Regions from separate parts of the Homo sapiens genome. Here region 2 is linked to region 1. Evidence: fine-mapped expression QTL. A gene starts in region 1. The other region holds a variant in brackets. All regions are shown on one strand. Distances are from middle to middle. Region 1 holds the start of BLOC1S2 (biogenesis of lysosomal organelles complex 1 subunit 2). Region 2 has its middle 29 kb from the start of CPN1.

Region 1 (8,000 bases):
AAAACAAATTAAGTGCACCATACAGGCATTCCCTGACATTTTAGCCTAGGCTCTCTTACCTACTTCTAAGCTCTTCCTTGGCAATCTCATCCTGCACAGCGTCCAATCACACCACTACGAAAGTGACTCCGAAATCTGTTTCTTGTGCTCTGATCAATCTCTGAGCTCTGGAATCCAATGTACAAGTCACCTGAGTTCCCTAGTTACATCAACAAGCAGCCAACCCAAAACTGAAAACATTTTCACACTAAACATGGTTCCTCTTTCCAGCTATTTTGGCTGATGGCACCACCCAGGCTTAAAACCTCAGATACATCTTGGTCTGCTTCCATCCCTCAATATCTACTTAAACAAGTCCTATAAAGTCCACTTCTGTAATGCTGTTGCACCCATGTTCTCCTTTCCATTCCTTTTACCACCACTCTGCCTCAGATCTTCATTACTTTTCTTTTCTTTTATTATTATTAGATTACTTGGAGCATGTAACCTCTGGATGGTAGGGGAAAAGACAAGACTACAAGGATGGAGTCGTGCTATGTTGCCCAGGCTGGTCTTAAACTACTGGCCTCAAGCAATTCTCCTGCCTCCCAAAGTGCTAGGATTACAGGCATGAGCCACGGTGCCTGGTCCTCTATTACTTTTCATCTGAATTATTGCTCATCTCTCTCTGTTCTCTCTCCCCCATATCTACACTCTCATATTTATACTGCTATCAAATTAGTCTCTCTAAAACAAAGGTCACAGCTAGGCATTGCGCCTCATGCCTGTAATCCCAGCACTTTGGGAGGCCAAGGTGGGCAGATCACTTGAGGTCAGGAGTTCAAGTCCAGCCTGGCTGACATGGCAAAACCTCATCTCTACTAAAAATAAAAATAAAAATTAGCCAGGCGTGGTGGCGTGTGCTTGTAATCCCAGCTACTTTGGAGGCTGGGGCAGGAAAATTGCTTGAACCTGGGAGACGGAGGTTGCAGTGAGCCGAGATTGCACCACTGCATTCCAGCCTGGGCAACAAAAGCGAAAACTCCGTCTAAATAAAATAAAATAAAACAAGGGTGACATATTCAAACACCTAGAAGCCAGCAAGATAACGTAAATGAGTAAAGTAAGCCAAGTGCTTGCACATTAAATGCATAAGAAAATTATTCACTTCCATGAAGAAATGTGCTTCCCCTTACTTCTTGCAATATGCAATCCTCTTAGCCCATCATTTACTTTACCAGTTTTGATAGAGCCATTGGTATAGAAAACCATTTCTGTACTGCTACTAATAAAAATAACAGTAGAGAACAGTGATCAATGGCACTTGACACTAGTTCCCAGTAAAGGGAGAAAACAGAAAGTGGTAAGGACAAATTAGATAGCACTAGTCCTTTTAAGAGGCAGCTGCTCAGCTCTAGTCAATTATAGCCTTGAAAGAATGCAGGGGCTAGTAGCGCCAAATCTTTGGAATTGTTAAAGAGAAGCCAAACACCTACATTTTGTTACTTGGTTTCTCTTGCTCAAAAATAAACAAACAAATAATCAGGCTGATAACTTACAGAGTCACAGCTGGGTGCAGTGGCTCACACCTGTAATCCCAGCATTTTGGGAAGCTGAGGTGTTAGGATCACTTGAGGCCAGCTTGGGCAACGGAGCAGACCTCATCTCTATTATTTATTTATTTAGGACAGAGTCTCCCTCCATCACCCAGGCTGGAGTGCAATGGCACGATCACAGCTCACTATAACCTCCACCTCTCAGGTCAAGCGATTCTCCCGTGTCAGCCTCCTGAGTAGCTGGGATTATAGGCGTGTGCCACCACACCTGGCTAATTTTTGTATTTTTAGTAGAAGCAGGGTTTTGCCATGTTGAGCAGGCTGGTCTGGAACTCCTGACCTCAGGTGATCCACCTGCCTAGGCCTCCCGAAGTGCTGGGATTACAGGCATGAGCCACCGTGCCTGGCCATATTTTTTTAAATAATAATAATAATAAAAGAAAAGTAATGAAGATCTCAGGCAGAGTGGTGGTAAAAGGAATGGAAAGGAGAGCATGGGTGCAAGAACATTACAGAAGTGGAATTTATAGGACTTGTTCAAGTAGATATTGAGGGATGGAAGCAGACTAAGATGTATCTGGGGTTTTAAGCCTGGGTGGTGCCATCAACCAAAATAGATGGAAAGAGGATCACTTGAGCTCAGGAGTTCAAGACCAGCCCAGGCAACATAGTGAGACCCTGTCTCTTAAAAACAGAAAAAGAAAAAAAAAAATTACAGATTCACAACCCCTACTATTCTGTATCAAGCCTTTTCTCATAGATTCTGATTCACAAATTTAGCTTACAGTAATTTCCTGGGGAAGTGAAACAATTTAATAAATGTTTTTGAGATGCTGTACTGGACCAGACTTCACTTTCTTTCTTTTTCTTTTTTCTTTCTCATTTTTTTTGAGATGGAGTCACACTCTGTCGCCCAGGCTGGAGTGCAAGTGGTGTGATCTCAGTCCACTGCAACCTGCAACCTCCACCTCCTGGGTTCAAGCGATTCTCCTGCCCCAGTCTCCCCAGTAGCTGGGATTACAGGCGCCCGCCACCACGGCCGGCTAATTTTTGTATTTTTAGTGGAGACAGGATTTCGCCATTTTGCCCAGGCTGGTCTCAAACTCCTGACCTCAAGTGATCCACCAGCCTCGGCCTCTGGGATTAAAGGCATGAGCCACCGCGCCCTGCCCATACTTCACTTTCTGATCCTCCTCCACACATAGGTCATGTGTCCACTTGGAAACGATCAAACACTAGTCATGTCCCAAAGGATGGGTTATCAAATCCTCAGACCAAACTAATAGGTCCCTAAATCTGCAGGTCACTCCCCGTTCCTCAATTTCATTTCTCTTTATCCCGGTAAACACATCTTCTGCTTTAGCCAAACACACTGCTTGCACATACCACCTCATTCGCTAGTTGTATCATCTCCCCCTTTTCCACCAATAATTCCCTTCACAACCCTGCTCAAAATACACTTTCCCCAAGGAAGCACTTCTTGATTACTGTTGCTGGATATGAACTCTTTTTTGTTATTGTTTTCTCATTAGTCTATGTTACAGAGGCCTGCAGAGTTGTATTTTCTTTCTCTCCCATTCATGGCCTCCCCCAACTTCCAACAGGCCTGTCTCAGGGCATGCAGGGTAGGAAGGGAGCTGCAGACTGATGCTGCTAACCATCTCCCAGGCCTCCTGGGCCAAACCGCACCCGAATCAACCCAGACCCCGCCTCACCCGTCAGTTCCCCAGTCAGGTAAGTGGCCATTTTGGAGAACATGTCCCGGCAGAGCTCAGTGATGTCAGCTTCAGCAGGCTCCTTTGCTTCCTCAGCTGTCTCCACGGCGGCATCGTCTGGGCCAAGGGAGAATGACTAAGTGTCCCGCCTACACCCGGTGCTAATCCAGCCAAAGCAGCCTGTTCCGACATCCCTCCACTTGCCTTCATTCCATCAAGTCGGCTCCATTCTCCATCTGCCATAATTTCAAGTCCTTCACTGCGTCCCTGCCCATCTGACACATCAACTCGCCTCCCTCGCACCGCCCCTCGCCCATACCCGGCACCCCCGCTCATCCTGGCACCATCCCAGTCACCCTGACAGGACAAACACTCGCGCGCAGCGACAAGTGCACTCCTCTCACCAGCCCGTTCCTGCCAGGTGAGCCACCACACACTCAACCTCGCCCACCCGAGACGGAGCCCCAGGCCCCCCACCGGACGCTTCCTCCCCATCCATTCCGGGTACCTCGGGCGGGCTCATCACTCCGGGTCGCCAGTACGCCCTCGGCTGCCGCCGCCATAGCGGACCCCGCGCTGTTTCCGGGCCGGGGTGCTGCGCATGCGCACTGGGTGTGCCCCGCCCACCCGGCCGGCCCTGCAGTCCTGCGCCTAGCGGTCCAGTCCAGCCTCAGGTCTATGACACAGCAAAGGGCGATTCCGGAGCCGAAATTGAAGCTACGCCAGGCTGTTGTGAATTGATCCACTGCCAACAGTCGCGACGTCTGGGACTGAGGGCGAGCTCATCCCTACAGTCACACCCTGGAGGGATCACTCATCTTGTACCACTCACGACCCGTCTGGGAATAGTCAACCCTGTTTGTGGCCTGCTGACCAAAACCACTGAAGACGGATTGCCCGCTCTCCTGACACTCCGCACTGGAGTTAGTCATCAAAAGATTGCTCAGGGAATCCAAAGTTTTACAGGTTGTCTCGTCCACACTTTGGGAAACCTTCAGGCATTGATCCCTGGTCCTAAATACTGTCCCTCCCAATGTCCTGAGTTAACACCAACTCACTGGCCCCTATTTCTTAAACTGCAGGCAGGCATCTACTTCTCTTCAGTTGATACAGCCTTCCTTGAAGAAAGCTTAGACTGTAACTTTTTTAGGGCTGAGGATACACTCTGGTTATCTTAATTGCATTTAAGCTGTTTCACAAGCCTCCTAGGTGTACAGAGTACTTAATGGGATGGGAGAACAGGAGTGAGTGAAAGAGATGGATGAGAAGAAGTGACTGGGGAGCAATTGAAGGTGCAAAATGAGGAGGGATAAAGGCCACAGAAGAAGGGATAGGAGATATTCAGCAGGCCTCAGGCAGGCTCCTGGACACCCAAAATCTTGGTAGTTTCTTTTCTTATCCCTGGTTATCCTCCCTCTGCACCCTCTCACCCCACCCCGATGCCAGTACATACACACACACGCCAGCTACCCCTTATCCCCAGCCCTCCTACCCTGACTGTCTCCACCCTGAGGACTGAGTCTCACTTGTCACCTGTCCCCACTTTTCCTATGGTGCAACCATAGTAGCCACTATTTCAAGCCATTCCTGCGAGCCAGAAGTTCTTTTTTTTGAAACAGAGTCTCGCTCTGTCACCCAGGCTGGAGTACAGTAACGTGATCTCGGCTCAGCTCACTGCAACCTCCACCTCCCGAGTTCAAACGATTCTCATGCCTCAGCCTCCCAAGTAGCTGGGATAACAGGCACGCGCCACCACACCTGGCTAATTTGTTTGTATTTTTATTAAAGACAGGATTTCAGCATTTTGCCCAGGCTTGTCTGGAACTTCTGGCCTCAAGTGATCCACCCAACATAGCCTCCCAAAGTGCTGGGATTACAAGCGTGAGTCACTGTGCTAGGCCTAGAAGTTCTTATAGCCCAGCTCCTTCACATCACTGCACCTACTCTATACCTCCTAGAGAGCATGAACCTATTCCAGCCCAGGCACATGGATGACCCACAATTTCAGCCTTTCTTCCCTCTATAATACCAGAAGCAAATGCAAAGTCCAAGTTTTCCTAAGGAGTTTTATTGATAGCCACCATGGAAACCCACATGGTCTTATGGAAGAATAATGTCAGAACCCACCACATATTAATTCAAAGATCTCTGAATCCTGAGTTCATTTCCTTGCCTGATTCCCTTCAGGCTCCATTTTTATCTCCTGGTTAAAGCCCACTCAGTTTCCAGGTTCAGTGGACCAGGAGGCAGCCTCTTGCAGAAGATCCTTCATAGACTTTGCTCCGGGAGTGCCTCACACTTAACTCCTCTGCAACGTTGGAATCTCACCACGGGAGAGTCTCCTCTCCTCTAAGGCTTCCTCTTCTCTTTTATAGGGAACCTCTGTGGGGGAAAACGAGAAACCCATGGGTGCTAGCAACAAATCTTGGGATGCACAAAGGATAAGAATAGGATTCACTGGGAAGTAGGAAGACATCTAGATACCGCCTACTCTCTTGGTTTCTACCTTTTTCACAGACCATGGCTATCCAGGTGCTTAGGAAGAGCCATTACCCTCCCTCTCTTTATCCTGTTTGTTAACTTTTTTTTTTTTAATTAACACACAGAGCTAAGTACACAGGGAGTAAAAGGCCCAGTGGAAGACGTTATTTCACAGAGCTATGTGGCAACACACAGAAACACTGATTCACAAGCCTAAGCATGATGCCCACCACACACAGAAACATTGGCTCAAAAGGCCAGATGCAGGGTGGGGCTCAGCAGCAGCCATGATGGGACCTGTTGTCCTAGAAGTGCAGGGGATGTGGCGAGGGGGCCTGTGCGGAGGCAGAGGGAGGGAAGCCTGCTGTCTGATGCTTTAGGCCCCCTTCCTCACCACTCTCCTGCCCACCCTGGACTCCCCAGGGGTCTGGGGTCACAGCTGGGGCTGGCTGCGGGTGCTTCCAAATAGCTTGTTCCTTCTGTTGGAAGAAGAAAGGGACAAATCATTTGAAGAAATAGTTTGTGTACCACTTTTCTTTTCTCTCTATCTGATTCCAGAGAACTCAGACTGCTATAGACTGTTTGCGTCCCTCCCAAATTCATCCGTTAAAATTGTAACCCCCAATGTGATAGTATTAGGAGGTGGGGCCTTTGGCAGGGGATTAGATAGTGAGTATGTAGCCCTTATGAGTGGGCTCACGCCTGTAATTCCAGCACTTTGGGAGGACGAGGTGGGTGGATCACCTGAGGTCAGGAGTTCGAGACCAGCCTGACCAATATGGAGAAACCCCATCTGTACTAAAAATACAAAATTAGCTGGGTATGGTGGCACATGCCTGTAATCCCAGCTACTTGGGAGGCTGAGGCAGGAGAATCACTTGAACTCAGGAGGCGGAGGTTGCAGTGAGCCGAGATCGTGCCATTGCACTCCAGCCTGGCCAACAAGAGTAAAATTCCATCTCAAATAATAATAATAATAAATAAAATAAAAAAATAAAATAAAGGAGACTTCCCTTACCCCTTCCACCATGAAAGGGCACAGCAAGAAGACAGCTCTCTATGAATCAGGAAGTGGGCCCTCAACAGATACTGAATCTACTGGCACCTTGATCTTAGACTTCCCAGCCTCCCAAACTGTGAGGAACAAATTTGTGTTGCTTATAAGCCACCCAGTCTATGATAATTTATTATATCAGCCCAAACAGACTGACACAGACCATCTCATGTGGCCAAGGCAGCCCTTAGGCCAGGGCAAGCAACTTCCAGGCCTTATCTCCATGACCCATCTCTGCTGATACACTAACCGCTATGAACATGTTTCCCCAGGAGCCTGAAAACATAGGTCTTTCAAAAATGTTCTTGCCCCACCCACTGAGTGGAAAAGATGGCAGAGTTCAGCTGTGAGGAACTAGGAGGACCAGGTGAAGGGCCACTCACCACGCCTGGGGAGGGAGCCAGCCACCCCTTCCTCTCCAGCATTTTCAGCTTTGAGCCTACAGCATCAATCTGGGACACTACTCCTTCCAGGACAGTCTCCAGCTGCAGAACTCTCCTTGTGAGCCTGTGTGGGATTTGAGAGAGACGAATGGAGCAGAAATCTGTGTCTGGGGGCTGGATGTCTAAAGAGCCAGGGTTCACAGAAGGGCATGTGTCCTGAATGGAACAAGGAAGGGAAGACCCAGCCTTGTAGGCAGAATTAAAGGGGAGCGGAGGTTCTCCCTGGGGTAGGACAGAGAATTGGAAAGTTGTGGGAAAAGTACAAGACAGGGTATCGTAATAGAAGTGTTGCCAGCCCTGAACCAGCCTTTCTTGGCTGCACGTACATGTAGAATTCTTCTCCTGAAACCCAGCCTCCTGCTCTGGCAGCCTCTGGACCCGATTTGCCTTGTGGGCTGCTCACAATAGATCGGCCTAGTTTCTCAATCTCAGTGTTGAGGGCCACCTGCTCAGGAAGTCAGAGGTTAGAGGGGAGGAGATAACTCTGGGAAGCCATCAGCTCCTGTTCTATCACCTACTCTACTGGGATCTCAGGACCAAGGCTCAGGTCCTAGTTCTTGCTATTCCCCTTCCCTCCCAGACTCTGGAGACAATAGGGTCAGGGTGGTGGTGCTGGACCAACCTCTGGAGGAGTCACCTCTCAAAGAAAACACAAGATCCTAGAAGGCTTGATGGATGAGGTATTTACTAGAGGCCAACTCATTTTAGCAGAGGAGGGACACTACCAGTGTTCTTGGCACTTTCTAGGCTGCTGTCACCCTGCCTTTGACTT
Region 2 (12,581 bases), 180 kb before region 1:
AGGGCGAGTTTTTCCTGTGCTGTTCTCGTGATAATGGATAAGTCTCGTGGCATCTGACGGTTTTCTAAAGGGGAGTTTGCCTGCACACGTTCTCTTGTCTGCTGCCATGTAAGACATGCTTTTGCTTCTCCTTTTCCTTCTACCATGATTGTGAGGCCTCCCCAGGCCTTTAATTGACTCACATGTGGTACTGTGAGTCACTTAAACCTCTTTCCTTTATAAATTACCCAGTCTCAGGTATGTCTTTATTCACAGCATGAGAATAGACTAATACATCTTCTGAGAGTTATAGTTTTAATGCTTACATTTAAGTCTATGATTCATTTGGAGTTAATTTTTGTACTTGGTTTAAGGAAGAGGTCTAACTTTATCCTTCTGCCATGTGGATACACCATTATCGCAGCACCTTTGTGGAAAGGACTGTTCTCCATAAAGTTGTCTTGATACCCTTGTTGAAAATCGCTTCATCATAAATGTGGGGGTTCCTTTGTGGACACTCAGTCTATATGTCTGTCCTTATGCCAATATCACACAGTTGTTTGGGTTTTTTTCCCTGGTCACTAGACTAGCAGGGAACACACAGTTTTAATGACTGTAGTTTTATATTTTGTTCTTCTTTCAAGATTGTTTTTACTACTCTTAGTCCCTTGCATTTTCATATGAATTTTAGGTTCATTGTGTGAATCTTCTTAATTTGGAGTGGATGCTACAGAAGATTCCCAATAGTGAACTGAGGACCAAAATTATCCAGAAGCCTCTACGTGGCAAAGGAAAGATCAGGGAACCAGGCAGGTCATTTATTGGTACTAGGTACATTTTGGAAATTTTCTAAAGAATCATCTTCTCCAGGGGTGGAGGCACTCCCTACTGGCATGCTGGCCTCAGTTTCCTAGTGAGTCAAATGACTGGATTTAGGGGATTGGAATTCTAAGAAAATCAAGGGTTCAGGAGCAAGGGCAGATCTCCAGACAGCTCTGTGTAGACCAGGGCCTGGAGGAGAGTTGGAGGTTACATGTTGCTTCCACATTGACCTAAGGCTTAGGCTCTTACTGCTATTCAATAATTCAAGATTTAAAGGAGACGGGTGGGATGGCTCATGCCTGTAATCCTAGCACTTTGGGAAGCTGAGGTGGGATTGAACCCAAAAGTTCAATATCAGCTTTGGAAACATAGTGAAACCGCATCTCTACAAAAAAAAAAAAAAATTAAGAAAATTAGCTGGGGCATGGTGGCACATGTCTATAGTTCCAGCTACTTGGGAGGCTGAAGTGGGAGGATCAATTGAGTCAGGGAGGTGGAGGCTGCAGTGGGCCATGACTGTGCCACTGCGCTCCAGCCTGAGTGACAGAGGGAGACCCTGTCTCAACAACAAAGAGCAAATAATTTATTTTAAAAAAATAAAAATAGGAACAGCTCTATGTGGGCCAGGCTCTCTCCAACACAGGCTCGCTTTCCTGGAAGGAAGGAACACTTCCATTAGTTCTCTTCATGTTAAAATACAATATGCCCCTAAAAGCCATTGGAAACACTAATCAGAAAGGGACTCTCATAAACTGCTGGAGGACATAAATCAGTATAGTTTTTCTAGAGGAGTATTTTTCAATACACATCAAAACACTCTAAAGAAATTTTCACTCTTCAATTCAGTGATTCTCCTTTTGACAATTTATCTGTAAGAAATAGAGATTTACCTATGAGGCTATCATTTGCATAATTATTTACAATATTGATGAATTAGATGAAACCTATACATCTATCTATAATAGACTGTAAATCATTGTGCCTCTAACACACAACCTAAAAATGTCTATATGGATTAATAGCATAGACTGTTTTTTATCACAATATACTAAGTGAAAGCAGAATATCAAATAGATTGTACAGAATGTACCAAATTTTATTTTTAAAATATACACTACAAGAGCCGGGCATGGTGGCTCACACTTGTATTCCTATTACATTGGGAGGCCAACGTGGGAAGTTCGCTTGAGCTCAGGAGTTCAAAACCAGCGCAGGCAACATAGCAAGACCCTGTCTCTACAAAAAAAAAAAAAAAAAAAAAAAAAAAAAAAAGATTTTGCCAGGTGTGGTGGCACACACCTGTAGTTCCAGCTACTCGGGAGGCTAAGGTGTGGGGATCACTTGAGCCCAGGAATTCAGAACTTCAGTGAGCCACGATCATACCATGGCACTCTGGGTGACAGAGTGAGACCCTGTCTCTAAAAAATAATTAGATAAGTAAAAGTAAAAATATAGATTATATATACCTGTTAGCAGTGACAAATTCATACAGGTATGCAGCACCCTCAATCCTTACCTCTTCAGAAGAAAGAATTCAACAGAGGAGGAACGTAAGGAGACCGAGGCAAGTTTAGAGCAGGAGTGAAAGTTTATTAAAAAGTTTTTAGAGCAGGGACAAAGAGGGCCAAGCGGGCGACTTGAGAGATTCAAGTGTGTGGCTTGACTTTCGGCTTGGGGTTTTATACATTGGCATGCTTCTGGGAATTGCCTCCTTTCTCCCCATATTCTTCCCCTGGGGTGGGCTGTCCGCATGTGCACAGTCGCCTGCTAGCGCTTGCGAGGGGCCACATGTGCAGTGTGTTTGCTGAAGTTGTGCGCATACTCACTTGAGGTTCTGATCTCTCACCAGTCGAGTGTTCCCAGAAGGTGGTCATGTGCCAGTTAAACTCAGCCATTTTGCTTCTTAGTGCGCATGCTTGAGCCCACTCACCCAATTCCTGAGCTCTTCACCAGCTTCAGGTGTTTTCTCTTGGGAGACTACCTTTCCCTGGCGCTGGCTGCCACCAATTATTATTTTGGAGAGAGAGTTAACAACTGCCTAACCATCACCTGATGGTCGCCTGACATTCCAGGTGTGGGAGGGCGGCTCTCTTGCCCTGCTCGTGTCTACCTACTTACTGTAACATACATAGAAATCTTTTGATGTATATACAGTAAAATATTAAGTGATTATCTGTAAGGCAAAATTGCAGGTAACTTCTTTCTCCTGTTGCTTTTCTGCATGTTCCATTTTTTATATTGAATATTTATTATCATTGTAATTAGAAACAAAACATATTGGCTGGGTGCAGTGGCTGACATCTGTAATCCTAGTGCTTTGGGAGGCCTAGGTGAGAAGATTGCTTGAGGCCAGGAGCTCGAGACTAGCCTGGGCAACATAGCAAGAGCCCATGTCTACAAAAAAAAAAAAAAAAAAAAAAATTAGCTGGGCATGGTGGCCCACATCGGTAGTCCTAGCTACTCAGGAGGCTAAGGTGGGAGGATCCCTTGAGCCCAGGAGTTTAAGGTTACAGTGAGCTGTGATTGCACCACTGCACTCCAGCCTGGGCAACAGAGCAAGACCCTGTCTCAAAGAAACAAAACATATTAAATGTTATTTTTGAAAATATTAATCAAATGAATGCATAAGATAACAGGGGAGAAAAAAAATGTGTGTTGGCCAATCTTAAATCATCTTTGCCACCTTCTGGGAAATCGTGACTGGAGCCAAGCAGCTCTTGTATAAAGGCGGGGACGTGTGAGGCTCTGAATTTCAGAGGGGAAGAAGGAAGATGCAGTGGCCAAGGGTCTTTGATGGCCTCTGGCTCCAAGAAACAGAAAATTAACAACAGTTAACATTTAAAACAAAGAAAGAAACCTGTACATTTTGTTTTGGAGAAGTCAGTATTACAAAGGGGAGATCAAAAAAGAAAGTTTGCAAAAGCAGGTCCCTTTGTCATTTGGTAATGTGTGACATCTAAATTGGATTGACTTGCTTTGGTTTCTTTAAAAACTCATTATATTCAATTACAAAATGACAAATCAGTCTTTGGATGACTGCCTGATTCTATTAGTGTACAGACTTAAATGGCTCCATCTAGATTTGGGAGTTTATCATAGTTTGATTGCCTTTGCTATTCTCAGTGGATTACTTAATTACGCCAAAAACTAAGTGAAGCTAAAAAATTGTCCAAAATGTGCAGGTGTTGGTCTGCATGGGTTTATTTGTATTTACCAAGGGAAAACGGCAAAAAGTAATCTGTTTTGTTGAAGCAGCCATTTTTATCCAGAAAGTGTCCTAAGTTTGACCCAAGACATTTTGGGAAACTGCTTGTAACTGAACAAGACCAGAGACAATAATGGCAACACAGTAGTCTTGGAGCCAAGAAATGGAGAGCACAGGAGCACTTTATTATGCTTATTGTTTATTTTTGGTTCATAAACAAGTCAAAAATACTTTTAAAAAAAAAAAAAGACAGGTTATGCTCTGTCACCCAGACTGGAGTGCAGTGGCGTGATCACAGCTCATTGCAGCCTCAATCTTCCAGGCTCAAGTGATCCTCATATCTCAGCCTCCTGAGTAGCTAGGAATACAGGTGTGTGCCACCATGCCTGGCCAATTATTTTATTTTCTGTAGAGACAGGGTCTTGCTATGTTGCCAGAACTAGTCTTGAACTCCTGGGCTTAAGCTATCCTCCCACCTTGGCCTCTCAAAGTGTTGGAATTACAGGTGCGAGCCACCACACCTGGCTTAACACTTTTTTTTTTTTTTGAGACAAGATCTCACTCTGTCTCCCAGGCTGGAGTGCAGTCTGGCTCACTGTGGCCTCGACCTCCCAGGCTCAAGTGATCCTCCCACCTTAGCCCCCCAAGTACAGGCAAGTGCCACCACACCCAGCTAATCTTTGTATGTTTTGTAGAGACAGGGTTTCATCATGTTGCCCAGGCTGGTCTTGAACTCCTGAGCTCAAGCGATCTGCCCACCTCAGCCTCCCTAAGTGTTGGCAGGCACGAGCCATTGCGCCCAGCCAACACTCTTAATTATAGTGGATTTAACAGGACTGAGCATTCTTAAGCTTGCCTGTGAGTGATGGTCTCAATTTATGGCTATTTTACACACACTGTCATACAATAGCTTTTATCTAGTAATCAGATGGTTCTCTGCAGGAAAAGTATTATTATGGTCAATGTGAAAAACTGGAGTTTGCAACCATACTGTCTAGAAAGCAGCTTTACTGGAATTGCTGCCTTAAATCATAAGAACTGACTTTTTTTTTACTGTTTTTTTTCTTTCTGGATTCAGGTGTGAATGAAAGAAAATGAGATCTGGAACCTTGATGCTATTGAATCAAACTCTACTTTCCTCGCTTGTAAATTGGGGTAGGGTAACAACCATGATAATTATGACAACAGCAGCCAGCTTTCCTCCTTGCCTCATACAATCTTTGTGAGGCTTAAATGACCAAATAATATTGGATGCTTTACATTTGCCTGACACTCTGTATTAGTCTGTTCTCACAGTGCTATGAAGAAATACCCAAGACTGGGTAATTTATAAAGGAAAGAGGTTAAATTGACTCACAGTTCTGTATTGCTGGGGAGGCCTCAGAAAACTTACAATCATAGCAGAAGGCAAAAGAGAAGCAAACACCTCCTCCACAGGGCAGCAGGGGAGCAAGTGCAAGCAGGAAATGCCAGGTGCTTATAAAACCATCAGCTCTCGTGAGACTCACTCACTATCAC[G/A]AGAACAGCATGGGAGAAACCACCCCCATGATCCAATTACCTCCACCTGGTCTCACCCTTGACAAGTGGGGATTATGGGGATTACAATTCAAGGTGAGATTTGGGTGGCGACATGAAGCCAAACCATATCACACTGCCTAGTTGTTTATAAATCTCATTTCATTCTCACATAAACTATATCCAGTAGCTGCTTTTGTTGTTCTTCACATTATATAAATGAGAAAAACCAAGGCTCAGAAAGGAGAAAATACCTTGCTTGAAATTATGCTTTTGTCACATGGCATAGTTAGAATTCAAACCAAGTTCTATCTGATTATAAAGCACTCCTGTTTAAGTGAAAAGTTCCTTTTTCCATTTCAACTTCATTTTGTATTTCCTTAAACATTATCTGTACAATTATTAGAGTTGGTAATATCTGCACATCGTATACAATACCAAAATATGTACACAAGGGTAAAAAGTGAAAATAAGTCTTCTAGCTGGGTGCTGTGGCTCACGCCTGTAATCCCAGCATTTTGGAAGGCCAAGGCCAGTGAATCACCTGAGGTCAGGAGTTCGAGACCAGCCTGGCCAATATGGTGAAACCCCATCTCTACTAAAAATACAAGAATTAGCTGGTCGTGGTGGCAGGCACCTGTAATCCCAGCTACTCAGGAGGCTGAGGCAGAGAATTGCTTGAACCTGGGAAGCGGAAGTTGCAGTGAGCCGAGATCCTGCCACTGCACTCCAGCCCGGGCAACAAGATCCTGCCACTGCAATCCAGCCTGGGCAACAAGAGAGAAATTCAGTCTCAAAAAAAAAAAAACCCAAAAACAAGAAAATAAGTCTTTCTCCCTTTCCTATACAGTATACTTGACATCCCTTTCCTATACAGTATACTTGACACCTGGTTTCCTTCTTGATGTAGTCACAGTTACCAGTTTATATCCCATGGGAGATATCTTATGGATTAAACACACACACACACACACACACACATATACAGCCGCCATTGTTTTCACATAAATGGTAGCATCCTATAGTGTTCTGTAGCTTGCTTAGTATTTCATGTTATAGAAATATCAGAATGTTTGCAGTCCTTTTTAAATAGACATTCAAGGATAGTCCAGTCTTCAAACATCAAAAATGTTAGGCCGGACGTGGTGGCTTATGTCTGTAATCTCAGTACTTTGGGAGGCTGAGGTGGGTAGATCACCTGAGGTCAGGAGTTCAAGACCAGCCTGGCCAACAATGGTGAAATCCCATCTCTACTAAAAATACAAAAATTAGCTGGGCGTGGTGGCACACGCCTATAATCCCAGCTACCCAGGAGGCTGAGGCACGAGAATTGCTTGAACCCAGGAGGCGGAGGTTGCAGTGAGCTGAGATCGCACCATTGCACTCCAGCCTGGGTGAAAGAGCGAAACTCCGTCTCAAAAAAAAAAAAAGAAAAAAAAAAGCAAATGTCAAAAATATTGCTGTAATAAATATTCTTTGGGGAAAACATACATGAAGGATAAACTGCTAAACTAGTGAGAGAGTAGGAACAGGGCTTGGCTTCTTTTGGCTTCAGCCCGCCACACTAGAGCATTCTTTCATGCATCCCCACTGATCACAAAACCTACTCCACTACCTCACTGATGCCATCACGTTTTCTGGGTTTTGTTTTGTTTTTTGAGACAGAGTTTCGCTCTTGTTGCCCAGGCTGGAGTGCAATGGTGCGATCTTGGCTCACCACAACCTCTGCCTCCCAGGTTCAAGCGATTCTCCTGCCTCAGCTTCCCCAGCAGCTGGGACTACAGGCGTGTGCCATCACACCCAGCTAATGTTTTATTTTTAGTAGAGACGCGGTTTCTCCATGTTGGTCAGGCTGGTCTCTAACTCCTGGCCTCAGGTGATCCGCCTGCCTCCCAAAGTGCTGGGATTACAGGCGTGAGCCACCACGCCCGGCCAATCCCCTGTGTTTTTCCTTAAAGAATTCCAGGAAGTGGCCTTAGGAAATAACCAAGGTTGTCCTCAGAAAGGAATGCTGAACGACTGATTTACAGCCTTGTTGCCTCCGACCAGACCACCAGGTGGCCCTTACTCAAGATAAACATAGCAACCAGATCACGCTGACCTGTGTCTCCTGCCCCTCACATGCCTTGCCCAGCCCAGCCTCCATACCCTATCACTGATGTCAATTCCTGCGCTTTGCCTAATAAAAAAGCCCTACGGCTCTTTTCTGGAAGTCAGTCAGGGAATTCTCTCACTCATGCTGCTTTCCTTATGTCTGGGCATAAGTTCCAATGAGGCCTTGTTTGGGAAAGCTCTTTCAACTTCATGTCAATTTCTATTGCATTGAGAGCCCAAGAATCCATGGTCAGTAACACTAGTAGTGAAACTACTCTTCACGTTGTATGTGTTTTGAATTTTGATAAATATTGCCACATTGCCTTCCCTAGAGGTTATATCAATTTACAATATTGGCAAGAATATGGGTTTTTTTTTTAACATCCTACCAACAAATTATGACAAATAAAAACATGTTCTTTTACAACTTTTATTTTAACATATTTTATTTTGTTAGTATATTTTTATGTTTGAAAATCACCTTGAATTACTTTTACTCAAATTTTAACTTTGTTTCCCTTGCACTTTTTTTTTTAGTTTATGTAAAAATTTATTTGACCAAAATGTAGAAAAAGTGATACTATTACATATGATACAGTTGTAAGAATCTTAAGAAAAGTATGGATTTTATTCAATAGCACAATTTGCTAGTGTATTTCCTGGATAGTGTGATGCTGAATAAATAGGAGTAGGGTGGTGGGGTGGGGTGGATAGGGGATTCAGATAAGCCAGAAGCAGGGTGATTTTTAGTCAGAATTGAAAACTTGAGTTGGCCCCCACACGCTGCTGGGGAATGTGAAATGTTTCAGCTCTGAGATGTTAACTGAGAAAACAAAGTAAAAAGAAGCCAAAATGTGCAGCCCCGTCTTCAAAATCCTCCATTATCCAGTTTAATCAGGAGTTTCTTGGTCTTTTATCAACTTGGTCCTAAAGAAGGAATTCAAGTTCTACATAAGTGAAACTTCAATTTGCTATTCCTGAAGTATGGAAATGAAGTTGGGCCAGTTTTTAATCTCTGCTGCCAGAGAGGCCCTTTCTGCTAATAGAACAAAGCTCTTTTGCTCAATTTATTAATGCCTTGTAGTCTTTTGAATATGGCTGACTTGAATTGGACTGAACTCCACCATATTCCTGCTGAGTGGATGGGTCATTATTGGAATGAGACACTTGCTCCTCAGAGAACAACTTTTGATTTTGTTTTTTCTTGTGATGGAGTGTCTCACTCTGTCACCCAGGCTGGAGTACAGTGGTGCCATCTCAGCTCACTGCAACCTCCACCTCCCAGATTCAAGCAATTCTCCCACCTTAGCCTCCCTAGTAGCTGGGACTACAGGCATGTGTCACCATGCCCAGCATTTGTATTTTTAGTGGAGGCGGGGTTTTGCCGTTTTGCCAGGCTGGTCTCAAATTCCTGACTTCAGGTGATCCACCTGCCTTGGCCTCCCAAAGTGTTGGGATTACAGGCGTGAGCCACTGTGCCTGGCCAGAGAACAACTTTAGAATGAAAGAAATATGCAGAAGAACATCACATCAAGCATCTATCCAGAAAATATGTGGGTAATTATGAAGCATTCTCATGCTGACTGCTTGAGAGGATGTTTGTTCTGCATGGTGGAGTGTGGAGAAGAGCCAGGATGCTTAGGTTAATCTATCTGTGGTTTATGACTTCCCACAACAGCAAACCCCCACCCACCATTTTTGTTTTGTTTTGTTTTTGTTTTTTTTGCCTCTGGATGGAAAATCCCCACCCATGTGATGGTCCCTGGTCTCTCCTGTCGTCTGACCAATGGTTGACCCAAATGGTTATGTTCTTCAGCGTTTTAAATAGATCCATTACTAGATATTGGAGTCTGTGTTCTCCAAAGTGTGGGGTTGCCTGTTCTCTTGTCGCCCAGGCTGCAGTGCAATGGTGCAATCTCCGCTCACTGCAACCTCCGCCTCCCGGGTTCAAGCAATTCTCCTGCTTCAGCCTCCCGAGTAGCTGGGATTACAGGCGTGTGCCACCACGCTCGGCTAATTATTGTATTTTTAGTAAAGACGAGGTTTCACCATGTTGGCCAGGCTGGTCTCGAACTCCTGACCTCAAGTGATCCACCCACTTCAGTCCCCTAAAGTGCTGGGTATACAGGTGTGAGCCACTGTGACTGTCCGCCCTCTGTCCTAAGAGACTGCGTTTACTAGGAAATACCCTGCCTACCTTAGGAATAAATGCAACGCAAAGGAAAAAATAGAGCTGAAAAAGCTGGTGCCATTTTTAAAAAAAGGAAGAAATGAGATTTAACTGGTGCTCAAAGCTTCTGATACAAAATATGTGGTCATGTATTCATAATTTGCTTGACATTTCCAGCAAAACAAAGATGGCAATAACAAAAGAAACTTCTTACAAGAGAAGAGAAAGACACTCGGAGCTCCGGAGTTTCTGCTGGAACAAGGCTCTTCCGTTTTGGTTATATACAGTCAAGTTCATTTAGTGCCTGATCCAGTGTCTGATATAAGCCCGCGCTCTCTTCTTTGGCCTGGGCAAATTTCTCTTCCAGGTCATCAGTTGTCTTTTCCAGTTTTGCAACCATTATCTCTACAAATTCAGCACGGATCTCAGCCTCCTTCAGTTGTCAGACAGAAGTTTAATTTTTTCTTCGTATTTGTCCTCCTTGTCAGAATACTTTCCAATGCAGCCTCCGGCGGTTTCAGATTGTTAGTGACATTCTTGAGTTCTTCTGCCAGGTCACCACATTTTAGTTCAGACACCTCTGCACGCTCCTCTGCTCTGGCCAGTTCGCCCTCTGTGATGGCCAGTTTCCGAGCTACCTCCTCTTATTTGCGGTCAGCCTCCGGCCGCAGTGTGCTTGGCCTCTTTGAGCTGCATCTCCCGAATCCATCTTCTCCTCATCCCTCATAGCCCGGTTTTCTATCACCTTCATTCTCTCTCACGCTCATCTGCAGCCTTTTCCCCCCTCCTCTAGCTTCTGCAGGGCCGTGACCAGTCGTTCCCGAGCCCCGTCCAACTCCTCCTTAAAGAGCTGGATGCACATGTACCCTAAAACTTAAAGTATAATAATAATAATAAAAAAAGAAAAAAAAAAAAAAAAAGAGCTGGATGCGTCAGTCGAGGACAGCCACATCGCCTTCAGCTTTCTCGCGCCGCTCGCTCGCGCCCCCCGCTCGCGCCCCCAGTCCAGCTGCCGCTGCAGGCCCTGCGCGCAGTCTTCGCCTTGTCCGCCTGCTGCGGCAGGGCCTGAATCTTGCGTTTCACCGCCTGCGGCGGGCGCCCCGGACCCGGCCGGGTTCGGACGACAGCTGCACGGCCGCGCCTCGGCCCCTGAACTTTTGCCTGCACCGGGGCCGCCCCGCACCCCCCGCCAACCCCCAGCCCCGGCCCGGCTGCCGTCGGGGCGATGAGGTCACCCGCCCTTGCACGATATCTGTTGATTTGGGGATTTGTTCCTACTGACTATAGGAGTCAATTTTCTTGGGTTTTTCAGGCACGATGATAGCAACTAAAGTTTTTGCTTCCATCTTTTAAATGTTTTATTTCTTGTTACTTTTTTCTGATTCCAGTTGAACTATACTGTAATGGTAAATAGCCTTGTTATTTATTTATTTATTTATTTATTTATTTATTTATTTATTTTATTTTATTTTTTTACGACACGGGGTTTCACTCTGTCGCCCAGGCTGGAGTGCAAGTGGTGCCATCTTGGCTCACTGCAACCTTCACCTCCTGGGCTCAAGCGATCCTCCTACCTCAGTCTCCTGAGTAGCTGGGACTATAGGCGCGGGCCACCAAGCCCGGCTAAATTTTTTTTTTTTTTTTTTTTTTTTGGGATTTTTAGTGGAGACAGGGTTTCGCCATGTTGGCCAGGCTGTCTAAAACTCCTGACCTTAGGTGATCCGCCTGCCACCGCCTCCCGAAGTGCTGGGATTACAGGTGTAAGCCAGCCTCATCTTATTCTCAATATTAATGAGAATGTTTCCAGTCTTTCACCAAAAAGCACAATTTGGGAGATGTGTTTTCATTGACTTAAGAGAAATTCATCTATTTCTATTTTACTAAGGGTTAGAAAAATCAAGAATGGATGTCAAATATTCTTAAAAGCATTTTCTGTACAAATGAGATTATCATGTAATGTCAAAATTGTATTTGTACAATTTTGCATAATCTGTATTTATGTAATTTTGTATAAATTGTATTTATACAAAATTGTATTTATATGGTCAGTTTTCTTAAGATGGATTTCCTGGTATTGCACCACTGCTATGTTCCTGATTCCTGTGTTAGTGGTGTAGTTTTTTCTTTTTTTTTTGAAACGGAGTCTTGCTCTGTCGCCCAGGATCTTGGCTCACAGCAACTGCCGCCTCCCGGGTTCAAGCGATTCTCCTGCCTCAGCCTTCCAACTAGCTGAGATTATAGGCATGTGCCACCATGTCCTGCTAATTTTTGTATTTTTAGTAGAGGAGGGGTTTCACCATGTTGGCCAGGCCGGTCTCGAATACCTGACCTTAGGTGATCCACCTGCCTCGGCTTCCCAAAGTGCTGGGATTACAGGCGTGAGCCACCGTGCCCAGCCAGTGGTATAGCATTTTTAATATGATGCCAGACCTATGCATCAATAGACTTTTGCATTGATATTTGTAAGTGAGACTGGCGGCTGTTTCTGTTTGCAGTATTTTGGTCAGGTTTGGCATCTTTTCTTCCTCCTCTATGCTTTGGAACTGTTTAAATGTAAAGCCCAAACCCTTAATCACTATGTAAGACTGACTACATCCCCAGTGTGCATGTAAACATTTTGGTAAATTCTATGTGCTTTACAAATGTTAACTGTCAGAGGCAGCAATATCCCAAATGTCGGAGTACAAGTGATCCTGAGAGGAGAGTATTAAGATTAAAGGAGGTGAGAGTTGCCTTGATTACCCTAGAGCTGCAGGTACCATTTCCATCTCTTGCCCCCTTTTTTAATGCACCATG

What was found. PIP is the estimated chance that this variant, and not a neighbour inherited with it, causes the effect.
Region 2: its variant is the best candidate, but not a certain one, in a credible set for the expression of BLOC1S2 in sun-exposed skin (GTEx, PIP 0.63).

The regions. Positions count from the first base shown.
Region 1 is chr10:100,282,847-100,290,846 of GRCh38, forward strand. BLOC1S2 (biogenesis of lysosomal organelles complex 1 subunit 2) reads right to left here and starts at 3,834. Exons shown (of 5, transcript NM_173809.5): 1 at 3,759-3,834; 2 at 3,251-3,367. The coding sequence starts at 3,813. It overlaps PKD2L1 (polycystin 2 like 1, transient receptor potential cation channel), which reads right to left. Exons shown (of 16, transcript NM_016112.3): 13 at 7,555-7,673; 14 at 7,169-7,292; 15 at 6,126-6,210; 16 at 5,303-5,632. The coding sequence ends at 5,550. RefSeq lists enhancers at 3,068-3,575, 3,161-3,460 and a silencer at 3,751-3,950.
Region 2 is chr10:100,104,350-100,116,930 of GRCh38, forward strand. It overlaps the pseudogene CYP2C23P and the pseudogene TPM4P1. Among named protein-coding and RNA genes, the nearest start is that of CPN1, 29 kb to the left of the region's middle. The variant G/A (reference allele first, on the strand shown) is at 5,525.